3 linked regions of the Homo sapiens genome follow. The protein of the gene in region 2 purifies or fractionates together with the protein of the main gene of each other region. This does not show direct contact. Each region holds a gene or a part of one and is shown on either strand. Other genes may lie near its edges.

What was found.
Region 1: the proteins of POMK (region 2) and CANX purify together in Homo sapiens (affinity purification with mass spectrometry; 5 studies listed by BioGRID and IntAct, with this or other methods). This does not show direct contact.
Region 3: the proteins of POMK (region 2) and LRP6 purify together in Homo sapiens (affinity purification with mass spectrometry; 5 studies listed by BioGRID and IntAct, with this or other methods). This does not show direct contact.

The regions. Positions count from the first base shown.
Region 1 is NC_000005.10:179,701,952-179,708,973, reverse strand, and holds part of CANX (calnexin isoform d precursor), read right to left. Parts: intron 3,296-7,022; coding exon of another isoform or gene 3,293-3,295; coding exon 3,122-3,292; intron 2,717-3,121; coding exon 2,643-2,716; intron 1,843-2,642; coding exon 1,784-1,842; intron 736-1,783; coding exon 594-735; intron 1-593. UniProt on the Homo sapiens protein: Calcium-binding protein that interacts with newly synthesized monoglucosylated glycoproteins in the endoplasmic reticulum. It may act in assisting protein assembly and/or in the retention within the ER of unassembled protein subunits.
Region 2 is NC_000008.11:43,096,503-43,103,524, forward strand, and holds part of POMK (protein O-mannose kinase), read left to right. Parts: intron 1-1,021; 5' UTR 1,022-1,113; intron 1,114-6,002; 5' UTR 6,003-6,098; intron 6,099-7,022. UniProt on the Homo sapiens protein: Protein O-mannose kinase that specifically mediates phosphorylation at the 6-position of an O-mannose of the trisaccharide (N-acetylgalactosamine (GalNAc)-beta-1,3-N-acetylglucosamine (GlcNAc)-beta-1,4-mannose) to generate phosphorylated O-mannosyl trisaccharide (N-acetylgalactosamine-beta-1,3-N-acetylglucosamine-beta-1,4-(phosphate-6-)mannose).
Region 3 is NC_000012.12:12,264,038-12,271,728, forward strand, and holds the start of LRP6 (low-density lipoprotein receptor-related protein 6 isoform b precursor), read right to left. Parts: upstream 3,008-7,691; 5' UTR 2,699-3,007; coding exon 2,644-2,698; intron 1-2,643. UniProt on the Homo sapiens protein: Component of the Wnt-Fzd-LRP5-LRP6 complex that triggers beta-catenin signaling through inducing aggregation of receptor-ligand complexes into ribosome-sized signalosomes.

The DNA.
Region 1 (7,022 bases), on a different chromosome or scaffold from region 2:
TATCAGAGAGAAAAGCAGAAAACTGTATGGCATTTTGAAAGATCGAAACTCTCTTAATGTATTTCCTCTCTCCCTCATCTTAGTCACGTTTTATCATAGGTCAAATGTTTACCCTTACAAAGGATTCCATCTTCTATTGTTTTTGAATAGTTATCAAATGCCACAAAAATAAATAAAATTAAATTGAACATTAATGCAGATTTCCAGTAAATTTGTTCTGCAAAATCTACAAGTTATTTAGAGTCAGGAAAATGAGTAACCAGTTTCTTTCAAAATAATGCATTAGGCAGGAAAAACTATTAATTACTAGTTTTGTAATTAATTAATTACAAAAACTATTAATGCAGATTTCCGGTAAATTTGTTCTGCAAAATCTACAAGTTATTTAGAGTCAGGAAAATAAGTAACCAGTTTCTTTCAAAATAATGCATTAGCCAGGAAAAACTATTAATTACAAGGTGTTTAAATTCACCCAAAAATCCCTACCACCACTTATATAATCTCATAATTTTTTAACATAGAGTAAAAGTTACATAATGTCTTCTAAGATTACCCTTTGCAGAAAGCTTTTATCCAACAAGCATTTCACTTACTGAACAATGAGAGGCTTGGTGTCAAACAGGAAGGGCTTGTTCAGTTTAGCAGAGATGGCATGATGCTTGGCCCGAGACATCAACACAAGTCCTTTATCACCTGGAAGCTTTGACTCCTTCATTTCCTCTACCTCCCACTTTCCTACAAGACAACACAAAAAAGTTCCACTGCTTAACTCTACCTCTGAAGGTCCTTTAAATGCCAAAAAAAACACCTCCTAGTTGCATAAATATATTATACTGGGGCAGCCGTGGTCGCTCACACCTATAATCCCAGCACTTAGGGAGGCTGAGGGCAGGCGGATCACTCAAGGTCAGGAGTTCGAGACCAGCCTGGCCAACATGGTGAAACCCCATCTCTAATAAAAACACAAAAATTAGCCGGGCGTGGTGATGGGCACCTGTAATCCCAACTACTCGGTAGGCTGAGGCAGGAGAATCGCTTGAACCCAAGAAACAGAGGTTGCGGTGAGCCAAGATCACGCCACTCTATTCCAGAAGCCTGGGTGGCAAGAATGAGACTCCGTCTCAAAAAAGTAAATAAATAATAAATAAACACACTTTATTTGGCAAATATTATTCAGATATGGCTTTTTAAAACTGTAGTGTATTATACTACTGTCTAGAAATTTCCAACATTCAGTAGCACAGGTGATTAAACAGATCTAATCCTATTAAATATAAGGCTACACATGCACCCCTGAACCTTAAATAAAAAAAAAAAAAAAAAAAAAATTAGGCAACACACAAAGGTGGCAAAACTTCCATGGAAAAATCTTTTTTTTTTTTTTTTTTTTGAGACGGAGTCTCGCTCTGTCACCCAGGCTGGAGTGCAGTGGCGCGTTCTCGGCTCACTGCAAGCTTGGCCTCCCGGGTTCACACCATTCTCCTGCCTCAGCCTCCCCAGCAGCTGGGACTACAGATGCACGCTGCCACGCCCAGCTAATTTTTTGTATTTTCAGTAGAGACGGGGTTTCACTGTGTTAGCCAGGATGGTCTCGATCTCCTGACCTCGTGATCTGCCCGCCTTGGCTTCCGAAAGTGCTGGGATTACAGGCGTGAGCCACCGCACCTGGCTGGAAAAATCTTAAAGCCTACTATGTCCTTTTAAACTAGTCTTAGGAAATGCCATGGAGACAACATGTCAAACCTCTATCTGCTATTATATCTAAACCAAATGGGATTCTCACCATCATATTTGGCAATTTCATCATCGGTATCGTCTTTCTTGGCTTTGGATAAAATCCACCTGTAAATAACAAATCCCAAAATCAGTCTTAAAATGACAGTTGACTTGTGAGGGAAAATTATGTAAATACTCATTAAAGTAGGACCTATTCTGCTCTTAGCCTATTTAACCACTCTACTTCCAACCTTTAAATCTGTCACACAACTAATGATAATACATTATCTTCAACTCACAAACCTATATGAAAAAGTACCAAACCTATGAGATAATTCCACTGATGTTTTAACATCAAGAGAAAATTTTTTTCCTCAATCAAAGAACAAAATATAGGGTAGAGTGGGGGAGGGAAAGAAGTGGAAGTAAAAACCACAAATTCCAAAAGACTATTTTCCTGCATGGATGTTAACACTGAAGATATTAAAGCTAGAAATTTCAGGCCAGGTGCGGTGGCTCATGCCTGTAATGCCAACAATTTGGGAGGCTAAGGCAAGTGGACCACCTGAGGTCAGGAGTTCAAGACCAGCCTGGCCAACATGTCAAAACCCCATCTCTACTAAAAAAATAACAACACACACACACAAATTAGCCAGCATGGTGGCGCATGCCTATAATCCCAGCTACTTGGGAAGCTGAGGCAGGAGAATCACTTGAACCCAGGAGACGGAGGTGGCAATGAGCCGGTATCACGCCATTGCACTCCAGCCCAGGCAAAAGAGCGAAATTCTGTCTCAAAAAATAAATAAATAAAATAAAATAAAGTTAGACATTTCACTATAAAAGATGCTATCCAAAAAGGAATCTACTATCCCATCTTATTTACATGTCTGCCTCTAACATATATTTCTCTGGAAAACACTTACCCTGACAGAGTTCCTCTGTCAAAAGAATCAGCAAAATATACTTCCCCTGTTGGAACTGGAGCTTTGTAAGTAACCTGTGTTAAATACATAAATGAATTAAAAATTTAAATTTTCAGCAACATGCCTTTTTATCTAGAATCTATTCTCCTGGTTTGCTTTCAACTGTCACAAAAATTTCATAGCTGGCCTTCAAATTCAACCCATATAATTGGCCTCTAGCAAGACAAAGGCTGCCAGAGAGATCAATAAGTATTTTCACGAATTTTGCTTTCCCTTTGAAAACGTTCCAAATTTATCTTCACCATGTTTTTCTTTTATATTTTATTAGAGATGATATCTCCCTGTGTTGCCAAGGCTGGACTCACACTCCTGTCCTAGGCCTCCTGAGTAGTTGAGACTACATTTCCCTGCACCCGGGTATCTTCATAATTTTATCATCTCAAGACGTAAAAGGAATAGATTCAAAGACCATTTCAAACCTTGGGAGATGAAGGAGGAGCAGTGGTATCTGGTTTTGAGTCTTCTACCTCTTCAATGACATCGTCAAGGTCATCCTCAATATCAATCACATCATCATCATGTCCATCATGAGCCTCAACAATAGCAGTTCCAAGCACCAGTAACATACACAGCAACCACTTCCCTTCCATGATCTACACATAAAGAGCAAAATCAGTTAAATGTATTGCCACCTATCAAACTTCATGAAGATCACTAACCACTCTCTCATTTAAAATTAAAGCTTTTAAATCGCAGAGCTAAAAAGAACTTACTATTTCATTTCATAGATAAAGAAAGGCAGCCTAGAGAGATTAAAGGGTTTCCCTAAAATCAGTTAAAAGATTCCATTTCTGGAAAATTTCAAAATAAAACTGAAACATACACAACATCCTCATATAGAGAGGATTGGTTACACAGATGTGGGGCATTCAAATACAATTTCCAACAAACTTTTGCATTTGTAAAGTGCTTTACAACAGACAAAAGCCCTTTCATACACTAATTTACAGGGGGTACCCGTTAAAACATTACAATGAAATAACAGAGATGGCCGGGCGCCGTGGCTCACGCCTGTAATCCCAGCACTTTGGGAGGCCGAGGCAGGTGGCTCACTAGGTCAGGAGTTCACAACCAGCCTGGCCAACATGGCGAAACTCTTCTCTACTAAAAATACAAAAATTAGCTGGGAGCGATAGCGGGCGCCTGTAGTCTCAGCTACTTGGGAGGCTGAGTCAGGAGAACTGCTTGAACCCAGGAGGTGGAGGTTGCAGTGAGCACGCCACTACACTCTAGCCTGCGTGACAGAGCAAGAGTTCGTCTCAAAAAAAAAAATTAACACAGAAGATAATTCCTCTCATATTAAGGCTTAATATGGATACGGTTGCTCAAATATCATCAATAGACATGTTTTCAAATTAGCGTTTTAGAACTCAAAAAGAATATTAAACTAAGAACAAGCTACTTTTTAAAATTTATATATTTTATTTATTTATTTTGTGATGGATTCTCCCTCTGTCGCCCAGGCTGGAGTGCAGTGGCACCATCTCAGCTCACTGCAACCGCCGCCTCCCAGGTTCAAGTAATTCTCCCACCTCAGCCTCTTGAGTAGCTGTGATTACAGGCACCCACCACCATGCCCGGCTAATTTTTGTACTTTTAGTATAGACAGGGTTTCGCCATGTTGGCCAGGCTGGTCTCGAACTCCTGACCTCAGGTGATCCACCTGCCTCAGCCTCCCAAAGTGCTGGGATTACAGGCGTGAGCCACTGCACCTGGCCAAAACAAGCTCCTTTTTTTTTTTTTTCCTGAGATGAGTCTTGCTCTATCGCCAGGCTGGGATGCATTGGCACTATCTTGGCTCACTGCAACCTCCGCCTCCTGGGTTCAAGTGATTCTCCTACCTCAGCCTCCCAAGTAGGTGGGATGACAGGTGTGCACCACCACATCCAGCTAATTTTTGTTATTTTTAATAGAGACAGGGTTTCACCGTGTTGGCCAGGATAGTCTCAATCTCTTGACGTCGTGATCTGCCCGCCTCGGCCTTCCAAAGTGCTGGGATTACAGGAGTGAGCCACCGCACCCGGCTTATCTCTTCTTTTCTAACCACGTAAGCGCCCTGTGTATTATATTAGATGTGTCTTGGGGTAGTGGCTCTCTTTCCACGGAGGACCACAGATCTAAAGAAATAAAAACTGAGCTACACAGATGCACAAGATGATGTGGTTGGTAGCAGGTAAATTTTCATTTTTGGGCTTGAGAAAGTACAGGTACAAGGTGGGGGAGAAAACAAGTAGAAGATACACAACTAAAAATGTGTGCGCACACACACACAAGATGTCCTTTTCTCCTCACATCCTCTGCCCACACAGTCACCCAATCAATCATAGTCTTTCACTCTTCTCCATTACTGACATCAGGATACTTAATGTTACCTTATATTACCAGGGCCTCTAGTTTCCTCCTCCTCTTTCAAGCTATCCTACAAGAAGACTCATCACCCAAAAACTATCATGAGTCCATGTTTGCAAAAATTTCTAAGTCTTTTAGCTAGTAATCAGCACCCTCTCCCTCTATAGCTGCTCTACATGCTATTCCCCCAGGAATCTTCAACTTCCTCTATTAAGACCTTATTTCCCAGCCTGGCCAACATAAACATAGCCTGACCCTGTCTATACAAAAAAAAAAAAAAATTATCCTGTCTCTACAAAAAATCAAAAAAAGAAAAATTTAGCCAGGTATGGTAGCACACACCTGTTGTCCCAGATACTAAGAAGGCTAAGGTAGGAGAAGCCTGAGTCTGACAGGTTGAAGCTAAGTGAGTCGTTGGGCAGGGTGGGGTGGCTCACGCCTGTAATCCTAGCACGTTGGGAGGCTGGTAGACTGCCTGAGCTCAGGAGACCAGCCAGGGAAACATGATGAAACTCCGTTTCTACTAAAATACAAAAAATTAGCCGAGTGTGGTGGCGCACACCTGTAGCCGCAGCTACTCAGGAGGCTGAGGGAGGAGAATCGCTTGAACCTGGGAGGCGGAGGATGCAGTGACCCGAGATGGCGCCACTGCACTCCAGCCTGGGCCACAGAGACTCCACCTCAAAAAAAAAAAAAAGACTCCACCACTCCACCAGGCGCGGTGGCTCACGCCAATAATCCCAGCACATTGGGAGTCCAAGGCAGGCAGATCATCTGAGGTCAGGAATTCGAGACCAGCCTGGCCAACATGGCAAAACCCTGTCTCTACTAAAAATACAAAAATTAGCTGGGCAGGCTGGGCGTGGTGGCTCACACCTGTAATCACAGCACTTTGGGAGGCCGAGGCAGGTGGATCACCTGAGTTCGGGAGTTCAAGACCAGCCTGACCACCACGGAGAAACCCTGTCTCTACTAAAAACACAAAATTAGCTGGGTGTGGTGGCAGATGCCTGTAATCCCAGTTACTCAGGAGGCTGAGGCAGGAGAATAGCTTGAACCCGGGAAGTGGAGTTTGCAGTGTGAGTTGAAATCACGCCACTGCACTGCAGCCTGGCCAACAAGAGTGAGACTGTCTCAAAAAAATAAAAAATAAAGTGAGCTGTAATGGCACCACTGCATTCAAGCCTGGGCAACAGAGTAAGACTGCCTTAAACAAACAAACAAACAAACAGAAAAAGAAGGCAGAGTTTCAGAGATATTTGCAGACCCGTGTTCATAGCAGTACTACTCACAACAGCCAACAGTCAGAAGCAACCCAAGTGTCCATCAATGGATGAATGATTAAACCATATGTGGCATAGGCATACAATGGAATACTATTCAATCTCAAAAAGGAAGGAAATCCCATCACCGGCTATAACATGGATGAACTTTGAAGACAATATGGTAAGTAAAATAAGCAATTCACAAACAGATACCACAAAGTTTTAAAAAAGAAGGAAGGAAGGAAAGGAGGGAGGGAGGGAGGGAAGAAGGGAGAGAAAGAAAGCTGAGCTTAATTTCTGGTCTCCTGGTTGGCATCGTGGCTCGCGCGTGTAATCCCAGAACTCTGGGAGTTGGAGGAAGCAGGATGATCGCTTGAGCTCAGGAGTTCGAGACCAGCCTGGGCAACAAAGCGAAGTATCTATGAAAAATTAGGAAAAAAAAAAAAATTAGCTGAGTGTAGCGTCATCCGCCTGTGGATCCAGCTACTCAGGAGACTGAGGCAGGAAGATCACTTGAACCAATAACAGCAGGAGTTTGAGACTGCAGTGAGCAATAACCACGCCACTGCACTCCAGCCTGATGAAGAGCAAGACCCTGTCTCTAAAAAAATAAGTAAGGCTGAGCGCGGTGGCTCACACCTGTAATCCCAGCACTTTGGGAGGCCGAGGTGGGCGGACTGCCTGAGCTCAGGAGTTCGCAACCAGC
Region 2 (7,022 bases):
ACTAAAATTAGCTGGGCATGGTGGCACGTGCCTGTAATCCCAGCTCTGTAATCCCAGCTACTCAGGAGGCTGAGGCAGGAGAATCCCTTTAACAAGGGAGTCAGAGGTTGCAGTGAGCTGAGATTGTGCTATAGCACTCCAGCCTGGTGACAGAGTGAGACTCCTTCTCAAAAAAAGAAAAAAGAAAAAAAAGAAAGCTCTCCCTGCATGTATCAGAGAAACTTCCATGTATGCCTGGGGAGATGTATACACAGCTTGTCTCACTAATTGTGGAAAAGTCAAACCAGTTGAAAATAGTGAACTGAGTTTTGTGCATCTGCATGGATAAATCTCAGAAATGTAATGTTGAGCTTTTAAAAAAAACTGGTTGCAGGAGGATAATACCAGCCCATCACTGTTTGTATAAAGCTTGAAAACATATGTATGATTTATGGGCACATACTTGTGAAAATAAGCATGTATGAGAAGCGGAGTTTGGTAACCCATCCCTGTAGTCAGTCCCAGCTGCTTGGGAGGTGGAGGCAGGAGGATCACTTGAGTCTAGCCTGGGCAACATAGTGAGACTCCATGTCTTAAGTAGATAGATAAGTAGGTAGGTAAATAGATAAGATCGATTAGATAGATAGACAGCATGTATAGGAATTATATACACCAGTGGTTTTCAGACTTTAGCATGCATCCAAATCACCTAGAGGATTTATTAAAACACAGATGTTCATTTCTGATTCAGTAGGTTTGGAGTGTGGACCCAAGAATTTGCATTTCTCCCAGGTTCCTGGGCTATGACGCCACAGGTCTGGGGAGCACAGTTTGAGAATCTCTGATGTCCACCAACTTGAAGATAGTGATCACTTCTTGAGGGGGAGTAGAATTGGATGGGGAGGAGTCCAGAGGGTCTTCAACTCTATTTGTAATATTTAATTTCTTTAAAAAAAGATCTGAAAAAATGATGCAGTGTGACTTGACAAAGCTGGATGAATGCTTATGATTTTTTTTTTCTCTGTGTGTGAAACACTTAAAGAAAAAGGATCCTGTTTGCTGTGTAATCCTGAGAATGGACTGCAAGAGAGGAAAAACTGGGCGTCTGCTTGGGAATCTATTGTGGAAACCCAGGTGAGAGGTGCTGCTGGCTCACGCAGCGGGGTGGAGGGGAAGGGCAGCAAGGAAGGAGATATGCAAGCAGTTGTGAGGGAGGTTTTGGTGGGAGCATTGACTGCATGTGGTAATCGGTTGGTTTAGAGTTTAGGGGAGGGAGGAATCAAGTCACACACACCTGGTCTGTAACTTGAGTGGGTGGTTGGGTCATGAGCCCATGACAGAGGGAACCCTGGAGGAGGGGCCTGTGGGGACTGGGGAGTTCTGCAGTGGACATCCCATACCTTGATAGGCCAGTGAGCAAAGCATAGGAGAGACCTGGGCTGCAGTGCAGACTTAGAAAGCAGCAGAGTTCAGATGGCTGCTAGTGTCCCAGGTGTGGGTGAGGTTACCTGGGTCTTTGGCAGACCTGGAGGAATGCCATCACCTAAGGCAGGGCTTGGCCAACCACAGCTTCTGCTTGTTTTTGCGTAGCCTGAGAGCTGGGAATGCTTTTATCTTTTTAAATGTTAGGGGGAGACTTCAAGGAAGATATAATTCACAAACCATAACATTTGACATTTTAAAGTGTACAATTCAGTGATATTTAGCATATTTACAAGGTTGTACAATCATCATCACTGTCTAATTCAGGAACATTTTAGCCAAAAAGAGACCCCATCCCTGTCAGCAGCTATTCCACCCCCTGCCTCCCCAGCCTCTGGGAGCCACAAATCTATGTTCTGTGTCTGAATTTGCTGTTTCTGGACATTTCATGTAAATGGAATCTTACAGCATGTGGCCTTTTTGTCAGGCTTATTTCACTGAGCATGATGTTTCCAGGGTTCACCCATGTTGCAGCATGAATTAGTGCTTTATTTTTTATGGCTGAATAATATTCCATTTATGGATGTACCACATTTTGTCTATCCATTCATCTGCCAATGGACACTTGGCTTGTTTCCACTGTTTGGCAGTTGTGGATAATGCTTCCGTGAACATTCATGTATGAGTGTGTGTGTGAGTGTGTGTGTTTTCATAGGTACATACTGGGCAGTGGAGTTGCTGGGTCGTGTGGTGACTGTGCTTAACCTTTTGAGGAGCGGCCAGACTGCTTTCCACAGTGGCTGCATTTTACTTTCTCACCAGTGATGTTTGAGGATTTCAGTTTTTCCACATTCCCCTATGTTGTTACTGATTTTTGTATTATAGCCATCCTCATGGGTGTAAAATGCCATCTTGTCACACTTCTGATCTGCGTTTGCCTTGATGACTGGTGAAGCTGAGCATCTTTCATGTATGTGCCTGTTGGCCATCTGTGTATCTACTTTGGAGAAATGTCTGTTCAAGTCCTTTGCCCATTTTAAAAATTTTATTTGTTTATTTTTTTGAGACAGGGTCTCACTGTCACTCAGGCTGGAGTGTTGTGGCACGATCACAGCTCACTGCAGCCTTGGTCTCCTGGACTCAAATGATCCTCCCACCTCAGCCTCCTGAGTAGCTGGGCCTATAGGCACAGGCCAACATGCCTGGCTAATTTTTAAATTTAGTTTTTGTAGACAGGAGGTCTTACTATGTTACCCTGGCTGGTCTGGAACTCCTAGGCTCAAGCGATCCTCCCACCTTGGCCTCCCAAAGTGCCGGGATTACAAGTGTGAGCCACCAATGCCTGACCCTTTGCACATTTTTAAATTGAGTTGTTTTTTTTGAATCTTTTGAGTTGTTCACCAGACATCCACATGGAGATGTCAAGGAAGCAAGCCTTGGGTTCTGAGGAGAGGCTGGGAATGGAGTTTTACCTTTGGAAGTTGTCAGCAGGCAGCGATGAAAAGTCCTGAGTCTGGGTGAGCTCTCCCAGGGAGTGTGGCAGAGGCCTGAGCTCTGAACTCTGGGGGACCCCACTACGTGGACTCAGAGATGAGGAGCTGCCAGAATGTAGTTTCCTGGAAACCAATTATATAAGGCGTTTAAGGAGGGAGTTATCAATCACGGTAGATGCTATTGATAGATCAAGGAAGACTGGGGCTGTGCTTTGACTGTTGTGTTTAGTGATGTGGAGGCCACCTGTGCTGACTGTGATAAGGTCAGTTTGGGTGCAGTGGCAGTGAGTTGGAGAGAATGAGAGGACAGAGCTGGGCGTGGGGTTTGCCTGAGCTGGGCTCGGGGCCAGTTTCATGGTAACACACTGTTTGTAGTAATAGGAGAGTGCAGGAACCTGGGGTGGGGCTTGGGAACTGGTGGAAATGCTCTCTGATTGCTTCTGTTTTTCTAGTAAAATAGGATGATCTCGTTAGATGATCAGCTGAGAGTGAAGGTGGGGGAACAGGTGGTACATGTTTGGAGAAGGAGAGTGTGAGCTTCCAGCTAGCCTAAGGCCACTCGGGACACACCTATCACTTTTATTGACTCACTGCAATAAGCGAGGCTGCATACTGGCGGGACTTGCATATCTTCATCAGAGGGACAGAGAGTCATCTGAGAGGGCACAGGGCAGGAGTCCTTCGGGGCCTCTCTGACCTGGCCCGGGGCAGGGAGCTGGGGATGGAAGTGCCATGAGTGCAAATAGGGAGCAGGGGGTCAGAGGAACAGAGGATATGGGAATGGGTGGTGGAGCCGGGAGAGACTGGAGCTTTGCCAATGGGGGCCTGGGCTGAGCAGGGCTCAGAGCATGTGGTGATGAGCCTTATGGCAGGTGAGGCTCAAGGCCCAGTGTGTGCTTAGGGAAGTGGGCAGCAGAGCGGGTGAGGGACCCGTGGGTGTATCACAGGGGTAGGGTGTTGAGGAAGTTCCAAAGCAAGCTAATAGGGGTTATGGCTGGAGAGAGGCCCAGTGTGTGTGCTAATGGGGGATAGTGTGGTAGAGGCACCAGGGTGTGTGCTAATAGGCCTCTGAGGCCTCGTGTGTGGTGATGGGGGTGTGTATGGTGTTAGTGCTGTGTGTGTGTCTGTGGGGGCCTGCAGGGTAGGAGAGAATGGGGTGCTTATGGAGGGGAGGTGGTTGAAGGACTCAAGTGCTGGGTGTGCGCTTGTGGGGGTTGTGCCGTGGTGGGTGTGTGCATGCGCTAATAAAGGTCTGGGTAGTTGGAGCCCAGTGCATGCTAATGGAACAGAGCTGGAGGGACCTCATGGAGGGATCTGATGGAGGGAGGACGGTGGGAGACCTGAGCCTGTGCTAGCGGGGATGAGGATTGTGGATCTCTGTGAGGTAGGGGGTGGTGGTGGTGCGGGAAGGGTCTTGGTACCGTCAGAGGCCCGGTGCGCTAAGGGTCAAGTTGGTGTGAGGTGCACGTGTGTCCCTGAGCACGAGGACACTCTAGGAAGGGGCAGCCGGATGGTTTAAGGCGTTCTAGAGGCTGCTACTGTGGGTTTAGAGCCATAGAGGCACTGAAGTGTGTGCCATTGCTGGGAGAGTCAGCAGTGTGAGGTCTGGAGTACGCTCAAGAGCGCCAGAACAGTATGAGCTTGTGTGCTTGCATCTGTGGGGTACTGGAATGTGTTGAGGTTCCAGGGAATACTGATGCAGGGGATGAGTAGAGCCGTGGAGGGGATAAAAATAAATTTAAAAGGCCAGGTGCAGTGGCTCATGCCTGTAATCCCAGCAATTTGGGAGGCTGACGCAGGAGGATTGCTTGAGGCCAGGAGTTCAAGGCCAGCCTGAGCAACATCGTGAGACCCAGTCTCTACAAAAAAAAATACAAAAATTAGCTGGATGTGGTGATGCGCACCTGTAGTCCCAGCTACTAAGGAGGCAGAGGTGACAGGATTGCTTGAGTTTGAGGCTGCATTGAGCTATGATTGCACCACTGCACTCCAGCCCGAGTGACAGAGTCAGACCCTATGTCAAAAAAAAAAAAAAAAAAAAGGAAGAAAATCATAGAATTTTGGAGATGAGTAAAGTTTAGGCAAATTTAAATGAAGTAGTGTTTTGATGGGCTCAAAGCCATGTAGAACTGAGTGTAAAGGGGCCAAGATCTAGTCTGGACTGCAAAGTGGTCCTCTTTCCTTGGAGACTACCAGGTTAACATAGATGTGCAGGATTATCTCCAGAAACTCCTTATCTGAAGGTCTGCCCTGTTTGGGAACTGAGGTTGCTTCTGTGTGTCAGAGTGACTTTGATCCTCCAGGAAAGCATGGGATGTTTTATCCCAACTGATAAGACTTCAAACTGCAAAATTTCTGGTAGTCTGTGATTGTAGAGAACAGAATTTCTAGGTAGTAAAAAAGGAGTCTTCATCCAAAGGGGGTTTTTGACACTTTATGGCTGCAGTGTGTTCTAAGGAGAAATGCCGTTTCCTGTTAACTTTGTGGTTTCATTGACGTCTTGTCCCAGCTCTGTATATGGGAGTGGATTTTGTTTTCTCAAGGAGGAGGTAGGAACAAGCTTCCTGTCCTGGATTTTTCATGGCTGGCTCCTCTCAGGCCTCTAGTCACAGTGTGAAGGTCACCTCCTTAGAGAGGTCTCCTGGGATGCTTCCTCCAGGGAGTTCCTACACAGTTACTCTCTATCTTTGAACCCCCATCACAGGATGATGATAGACCTATTTGTTTACTTGTTTATTGTCTGTCTTCCCCACTAGACTTTTCCCCTAAGCTCCAGCAGGATAGGAACCATGCTGGTGTAATTCACTGTGTGTGAATGTCTCCAGCACCCACTGCAGGGCTGGGCACATAGAAGCTGCTCAGGACATGTTGCGGGAATGAGCAGCTGGAAGTCAGTGATGGAGAAGAAGAGAGCAGACTGGGACAGAGAGACTCTGATGGGCTTCCCCACGGCCCTGCTCTGTCCTGGGGCTTGAGAACCTGAGGAAACCTGGACTTGAGGCAGGAGGAGGGCCCTGGGAAAGTTGGACCGTTTGGACTATGGCGATTTGTCTGGGTACATAGCTGCAGTTTCTGTTTACACACTTCCTGTTTGGTACTTTGTGGCAGGGTGTTTCCCGACCAGTCCCTGGGCGCCAACTAGAGTATGGACTGACCAGGTACCTGGATGGAGACCTGAGCTGGAGAAGGAGATGCGCTTGGGAGGTAACCCTGCATGTCACAGCTGTCTCTGACCCAGTTCTGTCCCAGTGCCCCAGCATTCCAGTGCTGTTTAGCTGGCTCCCACTGGCATGGCCACATCCACTGTTAAAGTCTCCATATACTTCCATTCTGCTCCATTCTGCTTCTGTAAATCACCTCTGCCATCCACGGTCCTACTTCAGGCTTCTCCGCAGCCAGGCCCCTCCACCATGGCCTTGCACGGCTCCAGCGGTAGAGCCCACACATTATCAGTGGTTACTTATCGCTGGTGTGACATCTGAGTGGTCATCTCTCCAATCTCATCGCTGTTATTCTAGCTCATGTACTTGTCAGCTCCTGTCCGTGGTCATAACCAGGGCTTCTTAATAACTGGTCTCCCAGCCTCAGTCTCTTTCACCCCAAATCTACCTTTCATAACTGCTGAAGAGTAGCTTTTATTTCTTAAAACTGTTGAGGGGATTCTGAGTACCTCCCAGGGAACAGGACAGCTGCTTAGCTGAGTTCGACAGAGGCCCTCAGCTTCCCAGCCTCCACCTGCTACCCTAAGCAGCCTCCTTCTGCTGTCCTTTGTCCACCCTCTGTCCCTGTCCCACCAGTTGACTAATACATTTTGCTTTCATTTTACTGAATATTCATGAGCATCTATTTAATGCATGCTACTGTGAGTCGGACAGAGTCAGACACAAACACCTCCCACCTAACCTAATCTAGAGGAACCCGCATTTTAGTTTGTAATAAAAAGTAATGATTATGGAAACAGCTAACATTGGGCATTTGGGATAAGCCTGGTGTTCGATACCTGCTTTAATCCCCACGGTAACGCTGCAGCTTACAGGACCCTTGAGTAGAAGAGGCATCAGAACACATTTTTGGAAATGAAAGGAAGTGAAAGCTGACTGTCATGACTTCTTGTTTCATTGTGTATTT
Region 3 (7,691 bases), on a different chromosome or scaffold from region 2:
GGATGAAGCAGGAGGATCACTTAAGCCCAAGACTTTGAGACTGCAATGAGCTGTGATTACACCACTGCACCCCAGACTGAGTGATGAAGCAAGACTTTGTCTCTTTAAAAAAAAAAAAATTGTGAACGTTATACAAATTAAATCTCAAATCATGAAAGCATTTGAGGATATGTCCCTGAACAAGCAAAAATTATAGCAAAAAGTAACATTAACAAGGTACTCCATATTATTTCATTTAAAACACCCAATAACCCTGCAAACTAGTCAGGTATCATTATCCACACTACCAGTAAAGAAACTGAGACCTAGAGAAGCGGACTAGACCAGAACCACAAAGTTATGAAGTTGTGACACTTGGGCTTTAAATCCAAGATTTTAGTATTGAAATTCCCAAATCTTTCCTTTATACCTTGTCATGTGATGATAGAGATAGGGACACAGCACTAACAGTATTCCCTGGCTTTCTGCTACTAATTCAACAGGGCTACAGGACAGAAGGTCTCCCAGACTCTCACATACCCCATCACACCCAGCCAATGTTAAAGCCCCAATTCTTTGTGGGGGAAAAAAATGACCTAAATGCAACAAATCAATCAGATTTTTCTCCTTGGAGTCCAAGGTTGACTAAATATCTTTACTATAACAGAGGATGACATTCTCAAAGAATGAATTAATTCTAAATTATGAACAAAAATATTTTACATCAAAAGACAGTTTTACTTCAAATAATATGTACTCACAGCTAAGTACAGTACTGTTACATATTAGAAGACCACCTTACACCATATTTCGCCACATTTAAAACGAGAGCTCCACTTCTGAAAACTTTGCTAGTGGAAACGAGACAATTTAAACTATTACCTCTTCCAGGTCTTGTTACATAAATAAGTGCAACCTATCTAAATTCCAATAATGAACAAACCCAGCTCTGGTCTCAAAGCTGGTGTTAAACAAACGGCATTTACATCACACGCTTCTCCTCCAAGAAATACAACTAGACAACCAGAAACATCCCAAGTTATAAGTTTTCCCACGACTCTAACCAATCAGCTGGTTCTCATATTTGTCAGCCCTATTAACCTTATGTCTTAAAATACATACATATTCTTATGTCAAATATAGTTGTTTCTAACAGCTACAGCAAAACCCCTTTCAATAGAGTATGCCAATAATAAAATAAGTATATACTTATGAAACCTCTCCAGTACGTAACACTTCATTAAAATTTCTGCCACAAAAATCTAATGAACACTACCTTTCCGGGGTTTACATGTGGGAAAACTTTGTAATATGCTTAGAGTATCAAGTAATATAACATGCAAACACAATGCTGCATTACTACAGAGTAACTGAAGAAAGTATTTCTCCTCCTCCAAAAAAAAACTCAATCATTCTCATCCGAAATACATATACACAGTACACGCAAAAATATACACCTGTCACAGACTATTAGTTACTATTAGTGTTCTGTAAACTTAAATTAGTTTGGAGAACTTAACAAAAGTTTAGCTTGTTAACACCTAAAAATCTCCAGCGACCAGCGGTCACATGCCTGAAAAGAACTTACTATGAACGCCAGTAAGAACTTTACCAAACCAAAACTACAAGCCACCGTATCGAGCAGTACTTAAATTCCTCTGCTGGTAAATGCTCCACAGCCATCACAGCCATCTCAAGTTCAACACTAAATAGTTTGAGAAGAGCTGCCGACGGGCCAGTCAAAAATCTTTGTGAACTGTCACAAAAGTCACAGAGCATGTGTCAGCTTTGCAGTCCAATTCAAAACATCATAGTGCCATCGAATTCAAGCGATTCCCAGAGCAAATTATCTCGAACAGCCTATGCAATTTACCAAAGTGCCAAGCAGTCCCCAGGGGTGCAGAGCAAATTATCATTTTGGTCCCAGGACCGGCTCCTCTTCACACGAGGATGAATTTCCCTACTTAGTGCCAACTGTACACTTGCATACTCCGAAAATAGGGGCAAGCCGTGAATACCAGAGGTTACAAGGGCAATGTTTTATTTTATTATGGGCTGAAGCTCAGAAGGCTCCCAATGCTGAAACGCTCGACCTATAACCCCGGAGTCACTTTCCAACTGCGCTCTCACCCAGGGTCATTATATCCCAAACGGAAGCCAATCATTACCTGTAACAAGGCCTGGAAAAAATAGCAAGAGGGCTTTAAAAGTTCACCTAAGAAACACCGAAACGGGGTGGGGAGTGGGTGGCGGGGCTTCGATGGATAAGGCCAACCTTAAAGCATCTCGGACTCAAACATTTTAAAAGCCAAAATACGTACAAAGACCCTTTTCCCTGGAAGACCCCAGGCAGAGAGAGGCACACAGACACTCAGTCATCCCGACAGCATGGGGTGCCAAGGGTTCCCTAAGACCAGCAGCCGGGATCGAAGCTCCGATGTGTCCGGGGAAGGTCTGGGAAGCCAGGCCAGGTCCGCATTGTGGCCGGGCGGTGCACGCAGCCCCTGCTCCCGGGCCCCTTTCTCTCCCCCTCCCCACGACCAGGCCTCTCCCCGCTCCTCTCCCCTTCTCCCTTCCTCCGTCCCTCCCCTCCCCCTAGACACATACAACAAGGCCACCTCCCCCCGAACCCCACCAACTTTCCAGTGCCCCCACTCTTCCCACCTCTCAGGAGCACACAGAAGCTGCAGGCCAGGAGGCTCCTCAGGACGGCCCCCATCTTCCCTTCTCGCGTTCTCTTCTCTCACCGGCGAGGGGTGGCCAGAAGTGGGGGAGGCGAGGAGCCGGGGCGGCCGCCGCAGCGGCAGGGCTGCACGCTCATACTTCCCAGCTTCCCAGCGAGAGAAGAAAGAAAGGGGCACGTCAAGGTTCCGCGCGCGCCGCCGCCGCCCTCTCTACCGCGCCGCTCGGCCCCGGGCTCGCGCGACGCCAGCGTCTGCTTCCATCCCGCCGCCTCCTCCCCCGGCGCCCCGCTTCCCCCGCGCAGCTCCTCATTCAGCCTCTGCCTCGCGCAGCGGCGCAGGGATACGGTCGGCACCGCCTCCTAGGGTCGCCGCGACCGTGTCCCTGCGCGCAACGAGCCCCTTCTCCCGGTACTGCCTCCTGTACGGCCAGGGAAGGGAGTCGGCAACCGCACGCACAGCCTCTGCCTGAGACCCTGGGAGAGGTTCTGGGCTAGCAGAGGCGAACTGGGAGGGAAAGCCTCCTCCCGGTGGCGCATTCCAGCGGGATTCTTTCCCGGACCGGCCGCTTCGGCCCTCCCCGCGGAGGGCGTGAGGCGGCGTTGAACAACATTGGAGCCGGCGTGGTCGGGACTACTTTCTGCGGCTCGGCCGGGCAGCCGTCTGCCCCGCTCTTTGTGCGGCCGCCGCCGGCAGGGCCAGGTGGGGCTCCGGTCTCGCGCCCCCAGCCACCTGAGACTGCCCAGCCGCGGTGCACGCGCGGGGAGCCACGGCGGATCCCGTTGCGGGGTGATGAGCTCCGTCTTCGGGGTTGGAAATCGGTTTCAGCATCCTTTTTTTGGGAGGGCGGAATTTTTGAACGCTGTTTACACCGGCTTTCAGCGTGGATCTGGTGAACGATATTAAAACGCCAATTCAAAACTGAGATTGTCATTTTTCTCCCGCCTTCCCAGAAATACAAACTGCCCCCAGAATTAAGCCCGACCAGCTAAAGATTTCTAAACTGGCAGATAAAATTCCAAGATAAATGCCTCAAAACCTAAGAGCAAAGGGACAATTGGACAAGACTATTTAGGATTTTACAAGTTGCATATAATAACGAATGTTTGGCATGCTTCGATTATCAATTCTCAGCTTGAGAAGGAAAAGATTCCCTAGAATCTCAGACTGTGCACAGCCTCTGCTACTCCCAGTGCATTGGGCATTCAGGAGTAATGGCCCAGACGCCCCCTGAAATCACCTGCCAGGCTTTCGTCTGGGCAGAGGCGCTCCAACAGTTAACCCTAATGGAGCCATCAGATGCATCCTGCCCAGCTGTCACACGCCCTTACCTGGAGGCAGATGGGCAAGAAAGTGGAGCTGCTACCACAATGTTAACAAGTACCTCAGTGACATTGGAGTTCACTAGTGCTTGAACACAAGTTATCATATTTGACACTCAAAACTACCCTGGGGAAAGGCAGGTTTTGTTACTTATTCTTTATTGCACAGAGGAGCAAAATGAGAACCTGAGAGGTTAATGACTTACCCAGGGCCACTCAAGTAATGAATAGCAGTACCTCAGCCCAATCCAGGTCTCTGACTTAAGCCACTCCGCTCCTTCCAAGAAATGCGCGCTGAACCAAAGGTGCTGCAGGTTTGTAAGTAGATGGACAGCAGAAACAGCCAAATCACTTTCTCCCAAATTCACCTGAGGTCTAGTCACCGTTTATTTAAATGACCTGCTTCTAAGAACCAAGTGAGTTTTGTATTCTGGCTTCCTCAAAGCAGGAAACTGGGCCGGGGGCGGGTGGCTCAGGCCTGTAATCCCAGCACTTTGGGAGGCCGAGGCGGACAGATCACGAGGTCAGGAGTTCGAGACCAGCCTGGTCCAACATGGTGAAACCCCCGTCTCTACTAAAAATACAAAAAAAATTAGCCGGGCATGGTGGCACACGCCTGTCATCCCAGCTGCTCAGGAGGCAGAGGCAGGAGAATGGCTTGAATCCAGGAGGCGCAGGTTGCAGTGAGCCGATATCGCGTCATTACACTCCAGCCTGGGCAACAGAGCAAGATTGCGTCTCAGAAAAAAAAAAAAAAAGAAAAGAAAGTTAACCTTCACTTTCACAGGCCCCTTCCAATGTCTGGGGAGGGGCCTTTATGGTATGTTCACATGGTCCTATTTGCAAAACAAAGATAATTTTGAATTCCTCTTCTGTATAATTGTATTATACAAAATTGTATAAGCTTCAAGTCCCACAAAGCCTGGATCTGTCCCTATTTATAATAGAAAATGCGGTACAACTGGCCGGGCACGGTGGCTCACGGCTGTAATCCCAGCACTTTGGGAGGCCGAGGCAGGCGGATCACGAGGTCAGGAGATCGAGACCATCTTGGCTAACACGGTGAAACCCCGTCTCTACTAAAAATACAAAAAATTAGCCGGGCGCGGTGGCGGGCGCCTGTAATCCCAGCTACTCAGGAGGCTGAAGCAGGAGAATGGCGTGAACCCGGGAGGCGGAGCTTGCAGTGAGCCTAGATAGCGCCACTGCAGTCCAGCCTGGGCGAAAGAGCGAGACTCCGTCTCGAAAAAAATAAAATAAAATAAAAAAGAAAATGCGGTACAACCTAAATCTCCTCAGACTATCAACCTAAGTAGGGGAATGAGATATTACACACTGCTGAAAAATAATAATTTAGAGGATTATGCAACAGTGTTGAATGTTTATAGTGAGTTAAGCTTTTTTTTTTTTTTTTTTTTTTTTTGAGACGGAGTTGTGCTCTTGCTGCCTGGACTGGAGTAAAATGGCACAATCCCGGCTCACCACAACTTCCTCCTCCCAGGTTCAAGTGATTGTCCTGCCTCATCCTCCTGAGTAGCTGGGATTACAGGCATGCGCCACCACACCCAGCTAATTTTGTATCTTTAGTAGAGACGGGCTTTCTCCATGTTGGTCAGGCTGGTCTCGAACTACCGACCTCAAGTGATCCGCTCTCCTTGGCCTCCCAAAGGGCTGGGATTACAGGCGTAAGCCACCGCGCCCGGCCGAGTTAAGCTTTTAAAAAGTGAAAGTGCATGTACATTTGATTATAGCTATGTAAAATAAAAATATATATAATATACAAACATAAATGCACACACATATATATAGCACATATTTGAGCAAAGACCAAAAGTAAGTGCACTAAAATAGGCATTAGGATGGTGAAATAATATGAGATGTAGTTTGCTTTTCTGTTCTTCAATTTTGTTTAATGTACTATATATTTACTACAAATTTTTAAAAGATGCTTAAGTGAAAATCTATAGGTTAAGCTTAAGCCCTAGAGAGAATGCCATTATTACTGCATAACTAATTTTGTTTCTCATTCTTTTAAGTGCCAATCAGATACCAATCACTCTGTTAAGTGTTGGGGATATAAAGATGAGAGTAATCATAGTCCCTACCCTCAAGAAGCTTACAGCCTAGTTTGGAAACACTGATTAATAAAGTGAGTAATTAAAATATTAAAATCTGCAGGGCACAGTGGCATACAACTGTAATCCCAGCACTTTGGGAAGTCAAAGTGGGCAGATCACTTGAGCCCAGGAGCTCGAGACCAGCCTGGGCAACATGGCGAAACCCCATCTCTACAAAAAATACAAAAATTAGCTAGACATGGTGGCGTGTACCTGGAGTCCTAGCTATTCGGGAGGCTAAGGTTGGAGGATCACTTGAGCCTAGGAGGCCAATGCTGCAGTGAGCTGTGATCTTGCCACTGCACTCCAGCCTGGGCAATACAGTGAGACCCTGTCTCCAACTAAAAAAAAAAAAAAGACAAAATTGCTAAGTGTAGAGATGCTTTTCTGCCTAGACAATTCAAAGAAGGGAAAAAAGGGCCAGGCGCAGTGGCTCACAACTTTAATCCCAGCTACTCACGAGGCTGAGGCACAGGAATCACTTGAACCCAGGAGGCGAAGGTTGCAGTGAGCCGAGATTGCGCCCCTGAACTCCAGACTGGGCAACAGAGTGAAACTCTGTCTCAAAAAAACAAAACAAAACAAAACAAAAGAAGGGAAAATAACCCTAGCGCTGAGGTTGGAAATACAAATCAGACTTTGCCAGGCCAACAAGACTGAAAAAAAATTTCAATCACAATAGTAGGTTTAAAGACACTGAATCATTAGAGAACTTAGTATGTTGGGGATTTGAAAGTAGATTCATATAGCTGATGCATGGAATGCTTTTAGAGAATGTCAGGAATTGAGGCAGGACCATTAAATAGCTATTGATTAATAAAAACCTTTTCAAGCCATGCTAAGAAGTTTAGATTTTAGCATATTAACAATGCGGACATTGAAGAATTTTGCACATTGTACAGAAGTCTATGAAAGGGGCAATCAGGACAGCAGCGCTGAGGACTGAAAAGACATCATGGATTTAAAGAATACGAGATTAAAACAGGACTTTTAGTTGTGAATTGAGAGAGAAACAGAGAGTAATGGGAGTCTCCTTTACAAAGAAAAGAAAACCTAAGAAGTATTTCAAGAAGGAGTGGGTAATAAGTTTAACAATGGCTCTTTTGTATTGGAGGTGTCTATGAAACATCCAGGTGGAGGCCGGGCGCGGTGGCTCACGCCTGTAATCCCAGCACTCTAGGAGGCCGAGGTGGATGGATCATCTGAGGCCGGGAGTCCGAAACCGGCACGGCTAACATGGTGAAACCCCATCTCTACTAAAAACAGAAAAATTAGCCAGGCATGGTAACACGTGCCTGTAATCCGAGCTACTCAGGAGGCTGAGACAGGAGAATTGCTTGAACCCGGGAGGCGGAGGTTGCAGTGAGCCAAGATCACGCCATTGCCACCCAGCCTGGGTAACAGAGTGCGACTCTGTCTGAAAAAAAAAAAAAAAAAAAAAAAGGCCGGGCGCGGTGGCTCACGCCTGTAATCCCAGCACTTTGGGAGGCCGAGGTGGGCGGATCACGAGGTCAGGAGGCCCAGACCATCCTGGCTAACACGGTGAAACCCCGTCTCTACTAAAAATACAGAAAATTAGCCGGGCATGGTGG